Homo sapiens: one gene and its partners. The protein of the gene in region 5 interacts with the protein of the main gene of each other region in a pairwise test. Each region holds a gene or a part of one and is shown on either strand. Other genes may lie near its edges. The genes, in order: CLDN10, MAL, SIAH2, CCDC167, OPRM1, SLC30A2 and CYB561.

Region 1 (3,500 bases), on a different chromosome or scaffold from region 5:
GGGTTAAATCATGCAACTGTGTTTTCCTGTGGAGGGGAGTTGATTCCCCCACCTGCAAGTGGAAGCTTCCAGGGTAGGGGCCCTCTGTTTGTCCTCTACCTTGCATTCCCAGGTCAGCCACATCTGGTGGGTGCTGGTCCTGACATTGCCTTTGGAGAAAGTGGCCATGGTGGCCTGAGTGGAACAGCCCTCCCCTTAAACCCAGGTATGAGCTCTAGATTGGGAAGAGAATCCAGGAAGGGAGAGAGAAGGCTCGTGACTCTTGCCTATCTTGTGTTAGGTAGAAGAACTCTTGGAGTCAAACGACGAGGTCATTATTCTGAATTTCTTTTCTTTTTTTTTTTGAGACAAAGTTTCACTCTGTCCCCCAGGACAGAGTGCCATGGCATGATCTCTGCTCACTGCAACTTCCACCTCCCGGGTTCAAGCAATTCTCCTGCCTCAGCCTCCTGAGTAGCTGGGATTACAGGCACCCACTGCCACACCTGGCTGATTTTTGTATTTTTAGTAGAGACAGGGTTTCACCATGTTGGCCAGGCTGGTCTTGAACTCCTGACCTCAAGTGATCTGCCCGCCTCTGCCTCTCAAAGTGCTGGGATTACAGGCATGAGCCATGCGCCCAGCCCTAAATTTCTTATATAAAGAAATCTCTGATTCCCCTCCCCTAGGGGTATCATTGCCACTTGTTTTCCTTATAAGAAAAATGAGGCCTAGCAAAGCTATATGTCTAGATTTAACGTTATGCCATATTAAGAACCCAGCTCTAATTTCTGCTTAGAATCCATTGTAGTATTATAATATGACGGGATGCTTTGATGACTTTCTTACTGCTCAGCAGACATCCATATTATTCATCCTGTGAAGGAGGTGCTGCCATCCCTGTTTTACAGATGAGAGAACTGAGCCTCAAAGAGATTAGGTCCTATAACCAAGTACATACCTTGGGTAAATAGAAGCACCAGAGGTGAAACTCAGAGTTCCTGCCCTCCCCATACCACTGTTCTCTCAAAGGATTTGCAGAAGTACACAAAGCTACCAGGAAAAGAAAAGCACATTCTTTTTTCCCCCCTAAATCCATCAACTAGCACAGGTGCTATTAGCGAATTGTCTCCACCAAGTGGATGTTTTCGTTTTTTGCTGATTTGCAATTGAAAATAAAGTACACATAATTTGGAAAACACTTAACTTTTAAGGAACACCTTGAAGCTTTCCTCCAACAGAGTTCATTAATTTAAAGTCACTGTATTTTACTATTTGAAAATTTCACAGCTGAATGAGCTTGTGATTTCTGTTTATTGTTAACCCATACTCCTTTCAAAGTACCACTTGAACTTCAGCTGAGTATGATTTTCAGCCAGCTTGTTTTTAGTGTATGCCATCTATTTTTGCTAGTGGGAATGCTTGCCATTTCTCCCAGGAGAACTAACTATAAATTATACTTCAGAGAACTTCTAAATAAATATGTTCATGCCTCAGCACCTTAATGTGTTAATTAGCTATTAACAGTGTCAGTAAATTAGACCTGTCAAAAATAATGGCCTCCTTGACTAGGTTTTTACTAACACTTCTCCTGGTGGTGTTACTTGTAAGTTTTGCCCTCAGGAACTGTTAGAAAGCAAGGCTGTAGAGGTCTGCTTTGCAAAAGATGAACTCTGAAAGGGTTTGTTGGAATCATCTTGGCTCCAATCTGTGGGTGTTGTAAGGACTGGTAGCCTTAGAACACTGAGAATTTACAAATCTCAGGCTTACGAGCAACTCCATTACATTTATGGCTGGCAGGGGAGTTTATCCCCTGCTCTTTGCTCTCCATTTCAGAAAATCTGGCCAATGATCGTCCTTGTAAATTGCCTTCTTTGTGCATGCGCAAAATTAACAAGTTATGGCTGCTGTTCATGCTGGAGAAAGGTACCTCATTTTCCAAATCCGGGTTCTGGTTGGCACAAAAGAAGGACCTGACCAGATCAGAATCTGCCCTGCCCACTTCTCCTCTCATGCTTGTGTCAAGAGACCAAAGTGGGTCCTGCTGCCAATACCAGGGCTGGGACGGGGCATCTCAGAGTGAGAAACTCGGGAAAAATGTTATCAGTGGTGATTACATAAAGTTCAAAGACTACTGTTATTTTCCCTGTTGTATTAAGAATCGAATGGGTTGGCCTGGGATTCTACCCACTGTTTATCATCTGGGAAATGCATTCCGCGTTCTAAATGACCAGATTGTAGAATTTAACCTTTGGTAAATTCCCGACAACTTGCACTTTCTGTTAACAAAGCATGGAAGTAACTAAAGGCAATGCAAATTAGGGTACATGCTAATGTTTTCTGGGAGTATATATAAATGGATGAGTCCCCCATTTTTTTGTTTATTTAATGACTGCAGTCAGAGTCAGCTATAAAACCTCAAAACCATAGATTAAAATGAATTTCACAAAAAGAGCGAAACCACACTGTCCGAGTAGCCCTGGTGGCAAGTGATGAACCAGTTTGGGTTATCCTCACAGGCTCTCTTCAAACTTGCAAGGGACTGACAGGCTTCCCCTCTCTGTCTTGCCTCTACCTGCTGTCTGGGCTCTGGCTGGGGAGCTCGAGGACTGAAGTTTAAAATACAGCTGGTTCAGCATTTGGCAGCGGAGACCCAGATAGCCCTGCAGCACAATGATTGCTATGAAAGAAGCCTTCATTATCCTGTTTTGCTAAAAATAAGTTTGTTTTGCTGTTTTTGATAGCCACGGTGTTAGTGAAATTGTTTTCTGTATGGAAATATTTCACACTACACAATGGAAGGTCACTGTCCTTGCAGTCTGCATTTGTGGGAGTCTAAAGTGTTTACAATTAAGTAGAGCAGCTCCTGTTTGCTCTTCAAAAATGGGTCCAAGGAATAGGATTAAAACTTCAATTTCATTCTTTTCCAAAGAAACACAGACTGGGGCCAGGTGCAGTGGCTCATGCCTTTAAGCCCAGCATTTTGGGAGGCCAAGGCAAGAGGATCGCTTGAGGCCAGGAATTCGAGACTAATCTGGGCATTACAGCGAGACACTGTCTCTATAAAAATTTAAAAATTAGCCATAGGTGGGGGCAAGCGCCTATGGTTTCAGCTACTCAGAAGGCTAAGGCAGGAGGATCTCTTGAACCCAGGAATTTGAGGCTGCAGTGAGCTATGATTATGCCACTTCCCTCCAGCCTGGGTGGCAAAAGTGAGATCCTGTGTTAAAAAAAGAAAAGAAAAAAAGAAACTGAACTGGAGGCCACTAGTATGTACTCCCTAAATTCATGATTATCATGGTCTCGGAATTATTATTTATCATGGCTCTGCTTGAACACCAATAATAAATGACTTATCATATATTGACACATAAGAGGTTTTTTCCAGTTAAAAAGTTTAATTCCAAACGTAAACCTGATGTAGGTATATATGTTTATTTGCTTAGCAGATACTTACTTACACCCGGTATGTGCTACTATCACTATTTTAGATCGAAATATGGCATTGTTTCAGGCTGAAA
Region 2 (3,500 bases), on a different chromosome or scaffold from region 5:
CCCCCACCTCCCTGCACCTGCTGCCCACCTGCTGGGTGAGAGATACCGCTGTCTTCACAGGTGTTCTCTGAGCTGCTTGACTGAGAAGCAATCAGGAGAGAATTGCATTTGGGTAGAAAAATCAGTGCAATGAAGACTTTGGATTTATTAAAACCAAGTTGTCCCTAAGGAATCAGATGTGGGCATCTCTGACCAGAAAGCGTCCTCTGCTGATGGATCTTAGGTTGCCTGAAGGCACGTGGCAGGGCCGGTGGGATGCACTGTGCATCTTACAAAAATGGGAGCAAAATCAATTAAATAAAAATGCCCAGACCACCATGGAATAAGATGTGTGTGTAGATTTCATCCACAGTTGAGTTTAAGATTCAACAGATTATGTGGCCTTTTCCATAACGGGCACTGACGGAGGGACAGGAGCACATTGGTACAGGCAGGGCTTGGATTCAGGAGGCATGCGAGGGTGGCATGGAGAAATAGGAGGAGGATCCAGCGGGCACATCCAGTGGGAAGAGGGAGGCCCTGGCCTGGGAACCCCTCTCCTAAGTGCCTTTTGCCTGGTGGCTACGTGACCCTCCCAGGAGGACCAATTTAAGTTGCTTCCTCGTTCACACAGTCTCAGGGAGTCCTGCACGTCTTCTCTGTAGCACTCAGCACAAACACAGGTATATTGGGTTAGGGATAACATGGCGCTTTCCCTGACCAGGTGATGGTGGGCTTGAGGTCTGCCTTGCTCACAGCTGCCTCACTGGTGGGGACCAGGAGAAGACCCATCCAGCCATGCATCGGTGTCCAAGTCAGCTAACGGGCCTTGGTCTCCTGGTACCTGGGTGTGGCTGAACTAGAGCCACTTATGAACCAAACCCCAAAGGAGCAGCTTGGGTTGCACATGGTTGGGAAGAGACTCCGTTATGGAATCCCAGTGGGACCCCGTGGGCCAGAGGCGCTTACGGGTGACCTATACACATGCTATCGAGGAACACTGAATTTCACAGTGAGGAAACGATTTTCCTCCTCCTTTACTCTCTTTGGTTTTTCTGATGAAGGCAAGAAGGGCTCAGGGTGGAGCCAGGTGTCTGGAGTTCTCTAATAGCGTGGATAGGCAAAGGTAAACCGGATAGTGACATTGTTTCTATGCTTATGGTTGCAATGTCATTATTTTGGGAAAAATTAACTGTAAAATACATATGAGGTAAATTAATGCACAGATGGCAGCTGGAAATGGCAAATCTGAGAAGGTAGTCCTCAGCTCCTGTCTGCAGAGTCATCTCACTCCACTCCATTCTTCCCACGTGGCTTAAGATGTGACTGGTGTGAGGAATCAATGGCAGGAAAAGTGAGGGGAAGTCAGTGTGTGGAGAGCTGGTCACAGCCTCCTGTGTGCACCTTGCTGGCTGCAGCCACAGCCTGGGCTCTGAGCTTCCGGCAGCTGCGCGGAGGGCCTTGAGGTCAGGCCAGACTCTGCCCTGTTCCAGTGTGTGCTTTTACCAACCTGATGAAGACTATTTTCCAGCTCCCTGGGAAATTCCATGCTCCCCACACTGGCTCGCAGGTTCCTGCAGTCTATAGTGGGAACCTTGTCCACAGTTGTCCATAGAACAAAGCCCACTATGGGTTTAACCCCAGCTCCTGACAGATCTCAGGACCCCACCCAGCCTCTGGGGGCATCACCTTGCAAGTGAGTCCTTTAAAAAATGAGGCCGACTTTTTTCCTTTGCATGGTATATTTATAGCAGTATGTTTCATAGTGAGATGGTGGGGAGACATTATCTTTTTCTTTTCTTAAACAGCTTTATGAGCTATAATTCACAGCCCATGCAGTTCCCCCATTGAAAGGGTATGATTCCCTGGTTTTCAGAATATTCGCAGATACGTGCGTCCATCACCACAGTCAATCTTGGAACATTGTCATCACCTTGGAAAGAAATCCCATGAGCTGTGGCTTCCCTGCCCCCATTCCAAGCAACCACTAATCTACTTTCTATCTCTACAAACTTCCATATTTTGAACTTTCATATGAATGGAATCATTCAACATATGGACTTTTGTGGCTCACTTCTTTCATTTAGTATAATGTCTTCAGGTGAGAAATTCTCTCTCAAGGGGACTTACACAGAATATCTCTACCGTTGCAGCTGCACAGTGCCCCTTTTGGACCCCACCATTCAGGGGGCCCTGGGTGAGTGTGTCTCATGTCCCTGGAGCCTCCAACCCAGAAGCCTCTGAGGAACCACGTTCCTAGGGACGCTCTTACACCAGTCCTTGCCTGTCCCAGAAACATATGAAGGTGAAGGTAGTCACAGATGTCTCAGCACAGATGACATCATGAAAGCCAGGGGTTTGCTCCCAGGGGATGGGCAGTGGGGCGGTCGACCTTCCGCTCAGCACTGCCCAGGAGATGCCCAGGGAGGACTGCAGAGCCCAGGGTCACAGGGGCCATCTGGGGGACAGGGCGGAGGAGGGTGAAGAGCAATCCTGAGAAGAAGAGGAGGATACGGGAAAGGCACAGCCGAGTCAGGAGAGATTTCATTCCCGGCTAGGTGTCTGTGGAACAGAAACAGCTGTTGCCTCAGCTGAGTCATGCCCCTTGCCTTTGGAGCACAGGCCTTTGCCGCGGTCTTCTCTGGGAGAATTCTAATGCAGAGGCGCCCTGCCAGCTCCCTCCCCTTGGCAGGGGACTCCCGTTCTCAGAGGAGCTGTCCTCCGAAGTCACTGTGGGACGCTGCAGCAAGTGATTCTGCCTCTTGGCCCCAGCTTCCTCTCTGCAAATGGCAACTCACAGCAGTCTCCCCACACTGGGGGCTGGTGTGAACTGGCTAAAACTACAGATGTGAGTATGAAGCTTCTGGCACTGAGCCCAGCACTACCAATACCTGGGAATAAGTTGTCGTTCATGCAGGAGGCTGACAGCTCAGTGGAAACAGATGCATAAGCAGCCACTTAACATGCAGGTGGACAACCAGCCCCGAGTGGGCAGAGCAGCCTGGACAGGTGCATAGGGTCAGTCGAGCCTTGGAGAGAGAGGTGGACCTAACTGGTTAACCAGGCCAAAGGACTGGGAGGGGCTCTCCAGAGGGCAGAAAGGGCACATGCCAAGCTCAGAGGATGCTGAAGCAGCTGTGAGGGCTTTGGAGGCTGAAGGCTGGGCAGCCGGGCTTGGGTCAAGGAGTAGCAGAAGGTGGGGCTCCAGGGAGGGTGAGCCTCCAGCCCCGCTGTGTGCAAAGCTGAGATTTGTTGTAAACCATGAGTCAAATCTGGTTCCTGCCCTGCTCCACCTACTAAATGTACAGAGAGCAAACAGAGTAAGAAGGGCACCCACACCAGGGAGTTAAGGCACTCCTGGGCACAGAGCAATCTGTTCCAGCCTGGCCTCAGGACCCCGCTGGCCAAATATTTGTCCAGAGCAAGGGAGTATGTGAGGGTTCAAGCATTTCCTTTCATCAAGGAGACTCCAGGTGGCTCCCAGCCTCCAGGTGGCAGTGCAAAGAGGCAATTATTTTGAA
Region 3 (2,772 bases), on a different chromosome or scaffold from region 5:
TAACTCAGAAGACTACTGGTCAGTCTGGTTCTGGCCAGTAGAGGTTAACATGAGAAGGGCCTAACCCTCCTCTCAAAGCTTGCTGACCCCCAACACTTCCTCAGATTCAAGAGCACATCATTTCATGGTCAGGTATGTCAGGTCCTCACAACAGGCCCGGGAGGAAGCAGAACTAGACAAGTTTGCTGACATGATCAGTCTGCCCCTCAGACACTGCCTTAATAGGGTAGGAGAACAAAATCATTTTCTCCCTTGCACTTGGGATGACATTCCTAATGGATAAATCATACCTGCCGTGGCAAAAGACCACACCAAGAGGAACTGAACTTCTACTCCAGACTCTCACAAGGATGACAGTGTTAATTCCTAGATACCAGATGGAGATCAGCCCACAAGTAGACACCTGCCCTGAGTACTAAGCTGTTCTGTAAAGAATTAAGAAACCTGAATCACCTTTTCAGGTGAAACTAGGTGTCAGCCTTAGACCCCTGGAGCACAGAATGGCAGGGGAACTGTCTGGCTAACTACACTTGGATTCCCCTGCTCCACTGAGACATGAAGGCACCAAATAAGGGCAAGGCCAGGTCATTTTTCTAAGATGCTATGTCCAGTTGCTAAAAAAAAAAAAAAGCACCACTGCTGTTTTTGCTTCTCTCTACCCTGCTTTATAGAATAATCCCCCTTTTAAACTTGAAGTCGGTCAAATTCTAACCTTCATAGATGAATTTATCACTAGCAACAAGCAGATGGTATGCACTATGTGACTTCTCCATACAAGACGCTAAGTTACAGTCACTCAGAGGATTCCGAAGCAAGGATGACAGCCTCCACTCTCAGGGGGATTAGTCTCCCCTAATCGGAAAGGAGAGTGGCTTAAAGAAAGAAATGTAGCTCATCCTCCAACCCCCACTTCCCCATACCTAAGCGGATTATAATATTTAACAGAAATTGGCAGAAATATTTCAGTTACTTATTTGCCCATAGGAATTGTTTGTTCATCTTTTAAAACTCTGAACTAATTTCTAAAGCCTGGCTGTAAAAAAACTCACTCAGGAGAAACAAATTTATTTATCCATGTGTATTCATACTTTGTGTTCCTTACTTTATAAGGCCTGAAAAACAAATCCCTATTAACTGTGTTTTAAATCTAGGGTGTGGCTAGGAATACAGAGCCTCCTCATGTTCTTCTGTGAGTGATGGGTGAGACATTTCTGTCCAGTTTAAAAAAACACACACACACAATAAAAATAGCAAGAAATAGCCCAGAGCCTGGCAGAGTCTCGAAACAAGCTCTCAATATCTGAAGATGTTTCAAGACGAACTTTTCCCCATAGCTGCCCAGGAATGAGATGAACTTTGGCCAATGGCACCCAGAAAGGTACCAGCTGCACCTCTGCCCAAAGTCCCAAACCACTCCTCATTCATGACGAACTCAACATTTACAGCAAATATTTATCACTTGGCAATCATTTTATAACTTTCCCCACTCAAGTAGGAGTATTTATACTCTGAATTATTTGATTTGCCTTACAAATCACATATTCAACACTTCTTTCCACCCAAATATACAGAACAGGGAACCTCCCCAAACTGCACAAATAGAAAAGGCATTACTTTGCATTTGTGTGGACAACGATCTCATGTTTTTTCATAAGGATCTTGCTACATCCTCTATTAACTTAAATAAATAGTTTTAAAGCCTTAGGTGCTTACTCTGCTTTTACTGAACAAGCAGAACTTTCATGGCAATCTATCCCTTCTCTTTCCATCATGGGTAAGGTTCATGTCTTCATAACAACTGGTGCCACTTTTATGATGACTAAAGTCTAAATTTTAACCCCCTACACACACACACACACACACACACACACACACACACACCCCACATTTCATACTTCAAGCAGTTTTGGCATTGTTCTGGAATGGCATGTCAGAGCACCATGGGTGTTTTGTCACTTTCATCAGGGGCTCTCATCCAGGGATCCGAGGGAGGACTTTAGTAGTTTGTGAATTCCCCAAGACTGTATGTAAAACTGTCTAGGTGCTTCTGAGCAGCAAAGCCAAGTCTCACTGGCCCCTGGCCTTGGGCTTGTGTTTTCTTTTCTTTTTTTTTTTTGAGATGGAGTCTTGCTCTGTCACCCAAGCTGGAGTGCAGTGGCGCGATCTCGGTTCACTGCAAGCTCCGCCTCCCGGGTTCATGCCATTCTCCTGCCTCAGCCTCCCAAGTAGCTGGGACTACAGGTGCCTGCCACCACACCCAGCTAATTTTTTGTATTTTTAGTAGAGACGGGGTCTCACCGTGTTAGCCAGGATGGTCTCGATCTCCTGACCTCGTGATCCACCCGCCACGGCCTCCCAAAGTGCTGGGATTGCAGGCTTGAGCCACTGTGCCCAGCCTGGGCTTGTGTTTTCTTGAAGAGCTCCAAGGGTTTCTAAGAGTTTCCAGGGCTGAGAACCTCTATCCTAGAGCACACAGAAGGAATCAGCTGTGGATCCTGCCCTTGTGGTGTTTCCAGTTGAGAAAGACCATATAATAAATTTAACAACTATGTAAAGGAAGACCAGGAGGGCAACAGGTGATTTCAAGGTGGGACAGGGTGAGGAGGACATGGTAAGGAAAGCTTTATTGTAGACAAGTGGATTGTGGATGGAGTTGTTCCATCTGGTTCTAGCACAGGGTGAGTGGAGGAAACAGTGGGGATAAAACCTCAAGGAGGCCAGGCGCGCTGCTCACACCTGTAATCTCAGCACTTGGGTAGGCTGCGGCAGGTG
Region 4 (3,500 bases), about 120 Mb from region 5:
GTAGAGACAGCCAAGGCAGAGACCTAGACGGCACAGTGTGGGGGCAGAGAGCAGGTGCCCCCTGCTGTACAATAACATTAAGAACCACCCGTGCATTATATTTACACTCAGAAAACCAAGGTCAATTTTTACATGGGGAAAAAGCACTGTGTCCCAGTCACTGAGATGAGTCAGCAGGGGGCACAGGGCTGCGATCTGCAGGGGCTTTGGGGACCCCAGGAAGTAAGAGAGGCGATGGTATGAACCCACTGTCAGCCAGCACACTGCTTCCTGGCATCTGGCCCAGCCTGAGCCCTGGGGAGGCGCTGTGTGAAGCCCTGTGTGAGCGGTCCAGGGGCCCAAGGAACAGGTTGGAGAGTGTGAAGGGTGTCCTGGGGAAAGTCTGTTCTTTACCCAGAGACCAGCAGTGGCTAAAAACTGCCTGGGGGGATGGCTGGGGAGTCTGCCTAGGCAGGGGAGACACAGAGCACAAAGGAAGAGGGGAGGAGGAAGGAAAAAGAGGCATATGAGGCAGGGAATGGAGAAGGAGCATCCCTCAGGTAGACAGGTGGGAAAGGCCCCAGGGGAGGCCTTAGGGAGTGGGACCCAACAAGTCCGTTCTTTTAACAGAAAAGCCCCGTAGTGATGCTGCCTAAATTACTGAGAACTGCTGCTTCTCAGTATCAGAGCCTGGGGCAGGGAATTGAGGCCTGCTGGGTGAAGGAGTGAGCTCAGCGAGGAGACCCATGAGACCAAAGGCCCTCCACAGAGGGGGTGTTCTGTGCAGAAGAATGAGAAGATCTAAAGTCAGCCCAGCAGTCAAGGCTGCAGAGGCTGTGTTGTAGGCCTGAGGGGTGCTGGGGACAAGGCCCTAGCCAAGTAGGGCCGTCAATCCTGCTGGCAGGTGCCAAGAGCAGAAAGGGCTTCTTCATGCCCAGCGGCAGGGGCAGGGACTCTTCCTGCAGCCTCCCTGAGAGCCCATCAGACAGATGCAGCTCCAAGCACCCGGGCCTGGAGTTCAGCAGCCCCCAGGCAGATAAGCAAACTCCCCTCTGCAGCCTGACTTGGGGAATATCACCTTATTCTGGGAGCTTTAAGGAAGTCTCCCTGGGGTCCTATATGCCATAAAACCACTGTGTTAAGAGAAACTGTAAAATTCGTGTGAAATCCCCGCGAGGCATCTTTTCAGGAGTGTAGGCCCTCTCAGAATCAGAGCCCCACGGAGGCCTCACTGGGGGCAGGGAATTTCGTGCCAGCTCATGCACAGATAACTGCCCCAGCATCCTGGCCAGGTCAGCTGATGGGGTGCCAGCTCCACGGCTAGCTGCTGTTGGGGGCCTCATATGCAGCTTTTCTGCCAACAAGCACGAGACAGTTCGAGCCACAGGCTACCGTTCACTCTATTCTCCTACTGAATGGTGTTCCCACAGAGCATCTAGACAGCCGGGGAGGTGGCTCTCTGCCCACTCCCTAATGAACCACTGTCTAGGGCCAGACCTGTTTCTGGGAAAGGGCAGAAGGCACCCCCGGGGCCTGGTGCTGGGCTACACAGGCCACTCTGCTTTCTGATTTAGGAAGCTGTTTGCTGTCTCTCCGGCTTTACTCTTGGGAGCTTCTGGCCAGCGAGTGACAGGTTTGCTACAGGGTCAGGCAGTGGTAATGGGGCATACACTGCACCTGGCTGGACAGGTCCTTACTGGGCACTCAGACCTTCCAATAAAGAGCGTGGTGCCAGGGTAGCTGAGCCGAGCCAAGTCACAGAGTCTCCAGTGTCTGCATGACAGCATGAGTGTAAGCAGCCTCTGGAAACCAAAAGTCCCAGCAAAATGGAACCACAACAGTGACAGCAGCAGCAACACTTCTGTAGTCTGTGCTGTGTGCCAGGCACTGACCTACATGCTTTACACCGATTAACTCACATAATGCTCGCAAGAACCCTGTGAGGTGGGCAGTATTATCAGCATCCACATTTGACAGATGAGGGGACTCAGACATAGGTAACTGTCCAGGGTCACACAGGCATTAAGTCCGGGAGCTGGGCAGCCACGTCTGTGCCCTTAACCACCATGCCACATGGAGAAGGCAGCGCTCATCAGCTCTGAGGGACTCCTAGCTCCTGGGCACAACCTCCACACCTTACCCCTGGAGCTGGGCAGGTTGTGGGCAGCTTCCTGTGTCTGCAACCGCCCTGCAAGGAAGGGCCCATCTCCATCTTACAGAGGTGCAAGCTCCCTTGCAGAGGTTTTCAGCACCTTGCCCAAGGTCGTGTAACTGGGAAGGGGCAGAATTGAAGCCTGAATCTGGGTTTTTCTGCTTCAGGGCTTATGCTCTTTCCACCACTTCAAGCTCTTTCTCCAAAATCCCTCATGAAAACATTCATGACAAGAGTTCTGCAGAACAGTCATTCCACATCCCAGCTGAAGCCCATCTAAGCTTGCTGATCTGGCTTCAACAGATTCTCTACTCGGAATAATCTTGTACAAGGCTCTGCTCAGTTTCTGTCTACATAACAGATACTCTCTGTGAGGGAAAGCCCTCATTGAAATTTGTTTGTTGAGACAGAGGAGACAGGAGCCCAGCGTCTGCCCTTACACTGGGCCAACTCAATGAGCTTCACAAACATCCCAGGCATTTTGCCCCAGATCACCTCGACTGTCAAAGCATCCTCCAAAATTCACACAAAACAGATCCAGTTTGGAGACGGAAAAAGGTGGGCTACTTGGGCCTGATAAACCCTTCTTTCCCCAGCAGTACCGAAGCCTTCCCTTTCACTTGCTAATTCACAGCCTGGAGAGTGGTGTCAGCTGTTTCATCTCCAGCCCCAGCAGCCTGGGAACTGGATTTTTGAAAATTCACTCATTTTCACACGTCAGGAGACCCCAGGACATTTATTATAATGGGTAAAGCAGCCAAGTGCCTGCCCAGATGGTCTCTGGCAAGAGTGCAGGGGCTTTCCATTTGGAGCCTTCAGGCTCCACAGCAAGTCACACGGGGTTCTTAGGCCTCAATTTTCCAGGTGACAAGCCTCAAACCCCAAGGGGCCCATTATCCCCACATCGTTTAAGGGATGTTTTTCTGTGGAGGCGGCTCACAGAGCTCTGTGGGGGCAGAAAAACCTCCGCCCATGGCTCCCCACATCAACAGGCCCTGTAAGGATTTCTCTCGCAGGTTGTGCAGCTGAAGACGGCAGACCTTCCCAGTTTTTAATCAATGAACAATTTTCAGGAAGAGCAGGGAGAGCCTAGGGGCTTGTCGCTCGCCTGGACACACCCCCATGCCAGGTCAGAAAGGCGAGGGAACCGCTGCAGCCCACGCGAGTCCCGACGCCTTCCCGCGAGGAGACGGAGGCCGAGCCAGCCTTGCAAGTTAGCGCCCGAGCCAGTCCGCGCCCGAAGATGCCAGCTGTCCCTGGGCCGGAAGGTGGTGTGGGGTTTGTTTTGTCTTCTTTCCCCCCGATATCTATTTTTTGATAAACTAGCAAAAGCTTGTTCATCGCTGAAAGGCTCAAAGCACTTTTCAAG
Region 5 (3,500 bases):
TCTACTGGAGTAATTGCCCTCCATAGGAATCAGCCTGGCACTCACAAAGGCACTATTTGGAAGTTCAGGAAAGTTCCCTTGACCAGGAAATGGAAGCCTGTGGAAAAATGCTGCCCTTGCTCCCCTCTCTCCTGAGGTGTACAATTCTGAGGTGCCAACTACAAGGCACATCAGAAGGCCCCGCCCACATTGTGACCGTCTCAAAAACATGCCTCGTTTTCCTCTTCCCTGGTTTACTCTTCTAGTTTCCCACTCCTTGCCAAGCAACCACTTTTCAAAATGGTTCACCTTCACACAAGGTCGTATCTCACACTCTGCTGAATATCCTTCCTGTTATTTTATAATTGGTGACTATACGTTAGCACAGTAAAATCTGTTTAATAAATAGAGCTCTTACAGACCTATCAATAAAGGTTTTCTCTTAACTATCAAAAACTCGTAAGAAAAATTCTGATAGGCAGCACCAGTTAGAACTACCAAGAGAGTTCAGAAGCTAAGCTTTTCCTTCCATTTTTGTTCCTGCCTTGGGATTTAGGAAAGGCTTTTTTGGGTAGGTTTGGCTGAATGGAGAGAGAGTGGGCACCAGTCATGTCCAGTGTTCAGTTTACTTCTTCTTGAGCTCAGGATAATAGGAGCAGAATTGTGTGTGCCATGTAAAGGAAATAAAGCCTCCTGTGCCTTCTGGCAAATTATCTGAGGGTATAAGAAAACAAACAAACAAAAAATCCTGCCACTCCCTTTTCCATTAATTTCATGTTATATAGTAACGTTAAGAGTATCTTGTGATTAATTGAGCTCAAGAAAATTTCAGTCTTCAAAAGTGAGCTGAAGCATCAAATGCAGGAAACGTCATATACAACAAGCATCATATACTGAGCTTACCAAGCAACTCCTTTCTTTACCCATCCTTTCTTGCCTCAGGTAACTTTTTTTCTTTCCCCATCAATTTCTCAGATACAAATTTAGAAAGGAAGAACAGCAAGGAAGAGAAACCTTGCCCTGGCTCAGGGCCCCAAGTGTCAGTTGTGGCTCGACTTCAAGGCACTCTGCGCCTCACTCTCCTTATCTGTAAAAAGGTGCGAATTGGACTAAAAAAATCTTAAACGCTTTCTAGTACTAAAATGTCCTATGGCAACTTCAATGACTATTAAGAGCATGTTTTTCCCAGCAATACAATCTGGAGGAAAAGAGGAATCATCCACAAAACTAAACAATCGTGGTTGCCATTCCATCACAGCCCTTTGGATTCTATATAAGCTCAAATAGGTTCTGTCAAAGGGAGAAAGAGTGAGTGTGCTCTGAACTGCCAGGTGTGGTGTTTATGATTAGGACAATAAGGGAAACAGAAAGTTACAGTCAAGCCTTTATTCATATGCTTCGAGAGTACAGGCAAGTGGTTAAGTGGGAAAAGGTGCAACCCCATCATGTTTCATTCCCCCCACCCCCACCCCACAGAAGCCACCAGGTGAGCATCACATGTTTGAGCAGAAATGCAGGAAGGAGAGGGAAAAGTCATCTTCTTACTGCACTGGGAGGCCCAAGCAAAAGGTCCTGCTGTTTTGTGTACCTGAGGGCCTGGGTGCAAGATGGGGAAAGACAAGGAATGAAAAACAGTGAGTCAGAGTATGTGCTGCCTCCTTAAGGGTTAGGAACGCATAACCTAAAAGCGTGACTGGCAAAGGTGGAGCGTGGGCAAAATTCTCTCTCTCTCTCTCTCTCTCTCTCTCTGTCTCTCATTCTCTGTTTAATTTTTAGGAGATGGTTTTAATATTTGCCTTTAGGTATTAGTCCTATCCTGGATGTTGTATTCCAAATCTGATGCAAAGAGGTTCCACCAAATCTAATCAAGTGAACTTTCGTAAACCAATGGATAGGGCTTTCCCATAAGATGAAGTGTGTGATGGGTTTAAATGAGAGAGAGATCATTCTGTTCTGGATATGTGTCTGTCCAGGCAAAAATGTTGTTAAGTACAATTTTTGTTTGTTTGTTTTTTGTTTGTTTTAAATAATATGTTAGCTTATGCACTGTATGTAAGTAGGTGTCTTCGTGTGTTCAGGCTGCTATAACAAAGTACCATAGCCTGGGTGGCTTACAAACTACAGAAATTTACTCTTACAGTGCTGGAGGCTTGAGGAGTTCATGATGAAAGCACCAGCAGATTCTGCATTTGCTGAGGACCTTCTTGCAGAGACAACTAACTTCTCCCCATTTCTCCACAAGGCAAAGAGGCAAGGAAGCTCTCTAGGGCCTCTTTCATAAGGGCATTAATAGTGTTCATAATGGCTCTGCTCTCATGACCTAATCACCTCCCAAAGGCCCCACCTCCAAATACCATCACACTGGGGAATAGGTTTTCAACATGTGAATTTGAGGGGAACACATTCAGTTTACAGTAGGTGTCCTAAGTGATTCAAATATTAACCACTCATATTCACTGAAAACCATTAGTGTGATTTAAATTAACGTTTACGTAAATTAGGCCAACCTGATTCCTTCACTATCTTCCAATATGCTTCATGTTTATCTCTTCTATACTGTTTCCTTTATTTTTCTTTCTCTCTGTTTTCCTGTAACGTATCTCTCATTCTTTTCCTATCAAAATGTTTCTTGTTCTTCAAGTATCAACTTAAATCCATCCTTTCTTACAGCCTCTCCAAAGTACTCCTACAACCAATTTCCCTGCAATATAACCCAAAATACATGCTACCATTGTTAAAAAAAAATTATGCATTTTCTCATGGCCTTATAAAATGTCACTTGATAAAACTTAAAGACTTGAACTATATCTATCTCTTTGTGTTTAGGTGAGAAATCCAACATTCAAAGTTGACCAACAGAACTGAATATCTTCAAAATACTGTACAATTCTAAGCTATTAGCAATTCAGATGTACCTCAAATTATTCAAGTATAAAATCTAATTTAAATAATTTTCTCAATTCACTTTGTTCATGCATATTTAGCTTTTATCACTTGAGTCATGAAAAGTGATCTGTACCATAGATACATATTAGCAAATCATAAATTCAAATACAAACACATACATGTCTATATATGCATATATTCCTGAGTTTACAAACTTTAAAAAGGGAATATATGGTTACTCTTATAATAAAAACTCAGAAAGTAAAATTTGAAGAAGTAAAAACATAAAAAGTTAATATAGTCAATTCCCATTATTCATGATAGTTATGGTCCATAAAGTCATTATGACTACAGAATTCGTGAGTACTGAAGCTTTGCTTCTAGGGGATATATAGGGCAGGTTCCTGTGAGCCTCTGATTATAAAATTTTCATCAGCTAATGCATTCGTAACCTTGTTTTATGTGTGTTTCTGTTTAAAGACGCTTTATTTAATATATAGCTGATTCACTAACGTTGAACTCATGGTTAACAGCACTATAAATCATGCCTGAACAAAGCTTCTGTAACACAAGTACTTTCCTCATAAGCCACATCACAGTCTTCTTGGCTTAGGGACACTAAGCAGAACTTCCAC
Region 6 (4,095 bases), on a different chromosome or scaffold from region 5:
TTTCCGCAAAGCAGACATAGGTGTGGGTGTGAGAGGCGGGAGGAGGAGGGGAGACGAGGGAAACTGGGGCCCCACTCACATGATGTTCACAGCCACAGCGCAGCCCGACGTGATCAGCATGGTCCCCCCGTCAATTTCATAGTCCCCAGAGATCAGCCGCTCCACAGCCAGGTACACCAGTACCCCCGTCACGACCCAGATGGACAGTACAGAGACCAGGGCTCCCAAGATCTCTGAGGAAGAACCCAACCCCAACACCCACCTTGGCATGGGCCTGGAGCTAAGGAGTCTTCCCCCTTCCTTCAGGATCCTCCCCACCCACCTCCCACACAAAGTCAGGGCCTGGGTCCCACTGGGCTCTGCTGAAGGTATGGCCGGTATGGCTGCCCCTTACCCCACCCCTCATATATCTAGGAATGTAAGAGCTAGAAGGAACTAATAAGTCATCATCTGAGTCCACCTTTTTGGTTGTACATGTAAAGAAGCTGACTTATTAAAGTATGTGCCTTTTGTTCAGCTAGTAAACTGAGGCTTCTGGGGAAGACAGGCTGGGCCATCTCCCACAAAGAGGAAGGTGACGATGCAGTCCAGGGTGAACGGAAGAGAGGTTAAAGCCTATATCTTCCAGCAGCCTTTGCTGGCCTTCCCCTCCCCCCAGAGCTGATCCACAGAGTTATGTGCAGTGTTAATGCCATTGTCATTTGTTCTTGAAGCTTGGCTACTGCACTTCTTAGGAAGGTCAACTTTGCTTCCCTGCAGACTGAGAGCTCCTGGATGACTGGGACCAGGGCTCCCCCATCAGACTAGGATTTCCCAGAGGACAGAGGCCATGGTTGACATCCTCTTCCCCCATCCAGATCACCCTCCTGGCCTCACTCAGGGGAGGAAGGGGGGATCCACCCATTACAGCCACCTAAGAACCCCTGTTCTAACCCACCCTCTCTCTCAACCCCATCTCCAGCCAAACCGCGATCCTCACCAGCTCTCTGCCAGCCAAAGTTCATGGTCTTGGTGGCTGGCCGGGAGGACATCCAGAGGGAGAAGAGGCTGATGAGCATGCTGGCAAAGTCAGTGAGCAGGTGTGCTGCGTCAGTCATGACAGCCAAGCTGTGTGCCAGGTACCCACCTGCAGGGTGGAGGGTCCTTATCAGCTCCCCCAGAGAGCTGGCTCCCAAGACTGTGTGTGCAGCAGGGAGACCACAGGCTCTGGAAGAGGACATTCTGGGCTCAAGATCTCTCTACCCATGAGCTGTACCACCGTGACAAGTGACCTACTCTCTCTGAGCCTCAACTTCCACTCTCTGTGAAATGGGCCACCAATATCTACTTAGAGGGTGAATGTGCACATCAAGTTCAAATAGGGACTGGAAAACATAGCAGATACTCAGTAAATGCTCTTCCCTTCTAGGAATTCAGGCCTTCCCTTAGCTACGAGTTGTGCGTGATCTTTGGCAAGTTACTTCACCTGAACATGCCTCAGTTTCATCATCTGTAAAGTAAGGAGAATAACGTCACCCATGTGAGAACACAGGTTGTTGTTAGACCTGCATCAGATAATGTGTATATAAAGGCTTACTGTAGTGTGTGTTCAGTAATTGGGGCTTTTAGTGTCAGTATTGCTGGGAACATCCAGTCTATCCATGCACCAACTTCATTTAATTAGCCCAAAAGTGCTTACCAACGACTTCTCCGATCATGAACAACAGGCAGATGGCAGAGGCTACATACAGCTGGCGCTGGGCCTTCCCCTTCTTGGGGTCACAGTGACTGTCAGGACCCTTCTGAGCATGGCAGTGATGGTTGCTCTGGGCAGCCAGCTCAATGGCCTGCAAGTCCAGGCCAGGTCGGGGCAGAGGAATCCAGCCAGCCCCTTCCTGCCACAGAGATCCCGTGTATGACCTGGCCAGAGGGGAAGAGAGGGAACGCTCAGCTCTGAGATGAGGTAAGGAGGGCCGACTCTAGTCCCATTTCTCTGTGAGGCCTTGTGTCCACTGGGAAAAATAGCTAAGGACGCTCCGAGCTCGACAAACCAGAGGTGAGAAGCCTGTATTCAGACGGGGATGATAGGGGAATGGGAGTCCTGGGGCCCGGGGCCCTTCAGAGGCCAGAGGAGGTGAAGACCCTGGGAACCGGCCAAGGGGCGTGCTGTCCAGTGGAGCGCGGGGAAGGAACAGAGCGCAGGCTCTGGGAGAACAGCAGGCCCCCTCCAGCGCACTTGGGACACAGGGCCTCCCCGGGGCGGGGCTGCCTGGGGCAAAGTGCTGGGCGGGGCGGGACTCCAGGCATGGGAACCGCCAATCCCCCGGCCCCAGGCCCCCCGCGGGCAGGGGTCAGAATCTGGGCTGCGCCCCAAGGGAGAGACGGTCCTTGGGCCACAGCCCATTATCTTCGTTCCCTCACCTCACCCCACCCCTCCTGCATGGTCCCAGCTCAAGCCGCAGCCAAAACCAACCACTGCTAGGATGGCAAATGCGGAGGTGCGTCGGCTGCCGCCAAAATTCCCGCCCGTCCCCAGGCTCTCGCCTTACCGGATTGCCGGCCTGGCGTCCAACAGATGCTGCTTCTCCTTGGCCTCCATGCAGTCCCGCGCCGAGTCCCGGCAGCCGCGCAGCCGCCCCGCCGAGTGCGCCCTGAAAGTTGCGCGCGGGACTCCGGGTGGCGCTCACCCACCTGCCCCGAGGGCCCCGCGAGGTGCGCTCACTCCGGCCCGGCTCCTGCGGCCCCTGAGCTCCCCCGGCTCCCGCTGCGGCTGCAGCTCCGGCTCTGGCTCCGCGTGCCAAGCGCTCCCGTGTCTCGGGTCAGCCGCTGCGCCCCGCGGCCGCCGGCTTTATCCGGCCCTCGCCAACCCGTGTGAAGCTGCCGTCGGCGCGTCGTGTGCAAAAGCCCGCGGGGAAGGGGGGGCGGTCGCCGGCTGCAAAAGGCCCGGCTGTGGCCCCGCACACCTGTGCCTGCGCCCATGGGGCCCGCGGAGCCCACCTGCCGGCCGCGAGAAGTTTGCCAGCCTTCGCCCGGCGCGGCGCCGGGTGTTGCTGAGTGAGGACGGGGTGACGCCTGCGCCCCCTCTCCCGCGCGGGGTGCGCCGCCTCGCCGCCGAAAAGTTCTCGACTTTAGTTTGTAGAAATCCGCTTTGGTGGTCCCGACGGCAGGAATGTGGCTCCTTGCCTCGGAAGAGGGTCTCCAGAGGCTACTGGGGCCGCGTCTGCCCCCTCCGACTGGCGGCTGCCCTGGGCTTGATCATGTTCCCCTCTCAGGCCGGAGACCCCCCGAGGTCGGCTTGCGTTCCTGTCCTCCTGCTAGGAGGGTCCTGGGGTGGGGTGGGCTGCGCCGCCCTCAGGCTGGGGCAGTGTCTCTCCCTAGGACCGGCTGGGACTGATCGACCCATCCTCGCCACTGAAGCAGCGCCAGCTCCTCCTCTCCTGCGCGCAGGAGAATCTGGAGTGGCCGGCTTTGTCTCCACCCGCACAGAGAACAGTGTCATCGGCAGTCACCATCGGAGCAGAGACGACCACTGCCACTGCTGCCACCCCTTCTCCCCTCCCCCGCAGCGGCTCCTGGGAGCCCCAGGAAGCCTGACAAGCAAGCCTGGGAGATGCAGGCCGGAGGTGCCACCGTGTTGGTACCGCTGGGAGAAGCCCTGTCCTTCCTGGCCAGCTTGGTGCCCCACCCACTTGAAGCAGCCTCCTTCCCTGGCGGTTCTTGGGGATTGGGGAGCCTGTGGCCCCCACGCTGGCCTCTGACAGGTGCCCTCTGTGTAGAAAGAAGCTGCTGGAGACCTCCCTGTCTGGTCAATTCGTCTCCCCAGCACCCTTTGTCGCTAGGACCATAGGCTTGGTGGGTATGGCCTTTCACAGAGCCAAGAGTCAGAGGTGCAGGCCTCTTGCCCACACCACTGGGGACAGGAAGGGGCTCTTTCAGTCTCTCATCTTGTAGGAGACGGGGTGCCAGGAGTGAGGATGTGAGGTGCACCCGCTCTGCTTGGGTCCTCACTGAGTGCCTCTCTGCTTCTCTGGACTCTGGTTTTCTTCTGGAAAACCTCAGACACCCTGGTTTTCTCCAGGTCTGTCTACTCTGAGCACCAGCAGGCTCAGCATTACC
Region 7 (3,500 bases), on a different chromosome or scaffold from region 5:
CCTCACACTCTTGCATTGCACGGCCATTTTTTAGCCAACTAGTTCCCATTGTTCAGCATTTAGCTAGCTTTCGATTTCAGTTTTCCACCAAATAAACAACAGGATGTGGTCATCTGCAAACTTCTCTGCAGGGAATCCTGAAACAAGGGCTAGGTTCTGTTTTAGACTTCTGACACATTCCATCAAATCATCTCCCAGAAACATAGCTCCAATCCACATTCCCAGGGTGGACGGGAATACGGGATTCCAGAAGCCCCAGCCAACAATAAATCCTATTTTTGGAACTCCTGCCTCTGTCCTTATCTGTCACCTACACGGGTATCAGTTCTGTCCCCGCCACCCCAAATTCAAGCCCCATTTCTGACGGTTCACTACTCATCTCTACCTGGACATCCCACAGACGCTTCAAACCCAGCTCGTCCCAAGTCACCTTCTCTCCCATCGTCGCCAAGTTCTCTCATGCCCTCCCCACTAGCTAGCAGGGCTGCCCTTCTTCCGGGCCCAGGTGACACCTCAGCTCCTCCACAGAAGGCTGCCCAGGCCGCCGCATGCTGGCACCCCTCCCCTCACTTCCCTCCTGAGCATCCTCACTGCCCCACCCAAGTCAGGGCCTGCAGCTTCTCCCTCTTCAACGTGACAGACATGCCAGGGACAAAGCCAGCTCCCAACATCATGCTGTCCCCTGCGTAAGTGCCCCCGAGTGCCAGTGAAATGCCAACTGCATGGCATGATCCTGCCCGTTTCCATCTGCAGCCCCCACTGTTCCTGCTAGGCCCTCTAGAGGAGACGCCTGGGCTCACAGAATCCAAGGACATGGCCCAGCCTGGCTCCCTGCTGTGGGCCCACACCCCTGCCTCCACTCCTCAGGCACCGCGGTGCGCAGATCACTCTGTCCCCAGGCTCTCCCGGAGCCTCCTTACCCTCGCGGTGCCCTGTCTGCTCCTCGAAGGCAGGGACGCTCTCACTCCTCCTTGGGTATCTTTGGGTCTCTAATACCCCGAGTCTAACAGGAAAATGTACTGAAAGAAGTGCTGTCCCCCCTGGTCACTTGTTGTCTGTCCTCCTCTCCAGGTCGCCGCCTCCTTTATTAGATTCATCCCCAGAGAGCCTGGCTGCAGGCAGAATCTGATTAGCTACAAATTAGGAAGAACAGAGGGGACATCACCTCTCCCTCTGCTGGGTGACCCGGCAACTTCCTCACACCTCGTGGAGTACAAAGGGCAGGAGAGGCCCGCAGAGCGAGGGGCCGCTGCCCACTCCTTCCTTCCCACCAGGCTCCCTGGAAGACAGTGGACATCAGAGCCAGGCTCTCTTCTCGCAGCGACGACTGCCTGCGGCTTCAACATCCTACAGTGAAATGCCCGGCCTGGCCTCCCGGGGAGTCGGAACCATAACATTGTTTGCTCCCCACCATGGCAGGGCAGACGTGTGCTTGGTGTGTCAGTAGGGTGGGGACCCAACAGCCTGTGAGCACCTGCTCTGTGCTGGGCACTTCATGCCATCTCTAATGTCACCCTTAAATGACACTGTGTGGATAACAGGAGCATTGCCCCAATTTGACAGGCCAGGAAATGGAGGCTCAAAGAGGACAAGCGACAGGCCCCCAAATTCCCATCAGCAAATAGCAGCTCAACTCAACCCGCAGCCACCTGCACTTGGCCAGGTGCTAGGGCCACACAGAGGGGGCCTGGTCCCTGCCCTAAAGGGGCGTGCAGATGAGCTTTGGTACAGACCCAATTTTCAGGTAAGGGTGGTACAAGTTCAAGCCAGGAGCTAATCTGGGCCTCCAAGACCCGTCCCAGCATGCACACGGAAGACGGCACCCCTGCTTTGATGTCTGTGGGCAATAGCATCTCTAGCTCTCCTGCCGAACAGTGGCTGCCTGCTCGTGGCTTTGGCCTTTCCAAGGCCCAGGAACTAGGGTGGTGCTGTCAGTCTTTCCAGAGACTGAGGCCAGCAAGGGTCTGTGTTGGAGCTCACTGAGGAAGCTGCTTTGACGCAGGGGAAGCTCCCGGGCGGTGCCCCCCCTCCTGTGCCAGTCCTCCTGCGTCCTCCCCGCCTCGGTTCCACCATGGCACTAAGCACTGGTGCGTGCAAGACAGCAGGCCCTGACCGAAGGCAAGAGGGAAGGGGTTACAGGAGGGCAAACAAGCCGAGGAAGATGCATTTCCATTTGCTCCTAAGGCGGGTGCCCTGGCCTAGGCAGCCCAGGCACCCGGGGCACCTGGGCATCTGGGAGGAAGCCAGAGATGAACAGCGGCCTCTGGAATGACAGCAGCCTGCTTCTGATTCAAAGGCGAGGCTTCAAAATCTAAGTGTAAGGATGAAAGGAAAGCCCATGGCTGGCCTGCAGGCGACCACAGTCCGTAGGTTCTGAGCGTGGCTCTGTGCTTTACAGGAGATAAGCGGAAGATCCCTTCCGCAACAGGACTCTCGTGAGGCCATTCATTGGACATAATTGATAACCCATTTGTGTGCAGGGAAGGGCTGTCCCATGCCAGAGGTGGGGGTGTACAGGGATAGACATTCTGGTATCTCTGGACAGAATCTGACCCACCCACAAATGTGTCTGCTGCATTTGCAAACCTGGACATTGGGTGAGATTTCTCCCTAGGAAGCAAGGCTTTGAATCGTGGCCCTCATTTCCCAGTCTTGACAGCAAGAATACTCTCTCGCTCTTCCCTCCTCACTGGGCAGCCCTGGGACACCGGCTGTTCTTGGGCCCTCTGTGTTCTCAGAGCAGAACTGTGGGCAGCAGCTTCAAGGCCTGGAAGCTGCCACTCCCCACCCCCAAGGGCTCCACTGCCCTGCAGACCAGAACCTTGCAACCAGAGGGAGCTCACGTAGCCCCTCACACAGTCACTTGCCTTCCTCTGTGACAGCTCAGGATGAGGGTGACAGATCTCTGGCAGTTTCTGGATCTTAGAGCTGTGAGAGTCACCCTCGTCCCCACCCACTCACCCTACCTGCAGCCAGAATCCACTTAATGCAATCAGCGCATTAGGGACAGCATGACCCGCAGATCTTCACTGAGCCAAGCATCGCTCTCCCTCCCGGTGCCCACTGCGTTTTATTAAAAGGCAACCAAGACTAATCTCATTATTGGGGACCAGACACTGCACATGGTGCACAGCCTCGGGGGCGGAAGGCGGAGCAGGGGAGGCTGGGAAGCGGGCAGCCTGGGCTGGCTACAGCCCTCCTTATCAACAGCAGAGTTTGAATTGAGTTAGGAAAGACTGTGACTGCGGAAAGGCCGATATCTCTTCTTGATGGGTGAAGGGGAAAACAGCTCAATTGCCCTAGAGCGTCCTAGCATGTGATGAAGGAGAAAGCAAAGTGTGGTGTGAGCTATTAGGGTACTTTCTTAGCACCCCAGTAGCCCCAGGAAGAAGGGGCTTCCCAGGCAGTGCTCCCCATCCCATGCCAGTCCTCCTGCATCCTCCCCACGCTTGTACCAGCATGGCACTAAGCCCTGGTGCATGCAGAGACACCAGGCCCTG

What was found.
Region 1: the proteins of OPRM1 (region 5) and CLDN10 interact in binary tests that used the Homo sapiens proteins (3 or more experiments, as listed by UniProt).
Region 2: the proteins of OPRM1 (region 5) and MAL interact in binary tests that used the Homo sapiens proteins (3 or more experiments, as listed by UniProt).
Region 3: the proteins of OPRM1 (region 5) and SIAH2 interact in binary tests that used the Homo sapiens proteins (3 or more experiments, as listed by UniProt).
Region 4: the proteins of OPRM1 (region 5) and CCDC167 interact in binary tests that used the Homo sapiens proteins (3 or more experiments, as listed by UniProt).
Region 6: the proteins of OPRM1 (region 5) and SLC30A2 interact in binary tests that used the Homo sapiens proteins (3 or more experiments, as listed by UniProt).
Region 7: the proteins of OPRM1 (region 5) and CYB561 interact in binary tests that used the Homo sapiens proteins (3 or more experiments, as listed by UniProt).

The regions. Positions count from the first base shown.
Region 1 is NC_000013.11:95,555,720-95,559,219, forward strand, and holds part of CLDN10 (claudin-10), read left to right. Parts: exon of another isoform or gene 1-205; intron 206-1,779; exon of another isoform or gene 1,780-1,859; coding exon of another isoform or gene 1,860-1,905; intron 1,906-3,500. UniProt on the Homo sapiens protein: Forms paracellular channels: polymerizes in tight junction strands with cation- and anion-selective channels through the strands, conveying epithelial permeability in a process known as paracellular tight junction permeability.
Region 2 is NC_000002.12:95,042,708-95,046,207, reverse strand, and holds part of MAL (myelin and lymphocyte protein), read right to left. Parts: intron 324-3,500; exon of another isoform or gene 61-323; intron 1-60. UniProt on the Homo sapiens protein: May be involved in vesicular trafficking from the Golgi apparatus to the cell membrane. Plays a role in the maintenance of the myelin sheath, and in axon-glia and glia-glia interactions.
Region 3 is NC_000003.12:150,743,398-150,746,169, forward strand, and holds part of SIAH2 (E3 ubiquitin-protein ligase SIAH2), read right to left. Parts: intron 1-2,772. UniProt on the Homo sapiens protein: E3 ubiquitin-protein ligase that mediates ubiquitination and subsequent proteasomal degradation of target proteins.
Region 4 is NC_000006.12:37,489,894-37,493,393, forward strand, and holds part of CCDC167 (coiled-coil domain-containing protein 167), read right to left. Parts: intron 1-3,500.
Region 5 is NC_000006.12:154,045,740-154,049,239, forward strand, and holds part of OPRM1 (mu-type opioid receptor), read left to right. Parts: intron 1-3,500. UniProt on the Homo sapiens protein: Receptor for endogenous opioids such as beta-endorphin and endomorphin. Receptor for natural and synthetic opioids including morphine, heroin, DAMGO, fentanyl, etorphine, buprenorphin and methadone.
Region 6 is NC_000001.11:26,043,319-26,047,413, forward strand, and holds the start of SLC30A2 (proton-coupled zinc antiporter SLC30A2), read right to left. Parts: upstream 2,801-4,095; 5' UTR 2,579-2,800; coding exon 2,529-2,578; intron 1,900-2,528; coding exon 1,679-1,899; intron 1,127-1,678; coding exon 980-1,126; intron 234-979; coding exon 80-233; intron 1-79.
Region 7 is NC_000017.11:63,439,807-63,443,306, forward strand, and holds part of CYB561 (transmembrane ascorbate-dependent reductase CYB561), read right to left. Parts: intron 1,022-3,500; exon of another isoform or gene 921-1,021; intron 462-920; exon of another isoform or gene 394-461; coding exon of another isoform or gene 386-393; intron 1-385. UniProt on the Homo sapiens protein: Transmembrane reductase that uses ascorbate as an electron donor in the cytoplasm and transfers electrons across membranes to reduce monodehydro-L-ascorbate radical in the lumen of secretory vesicles.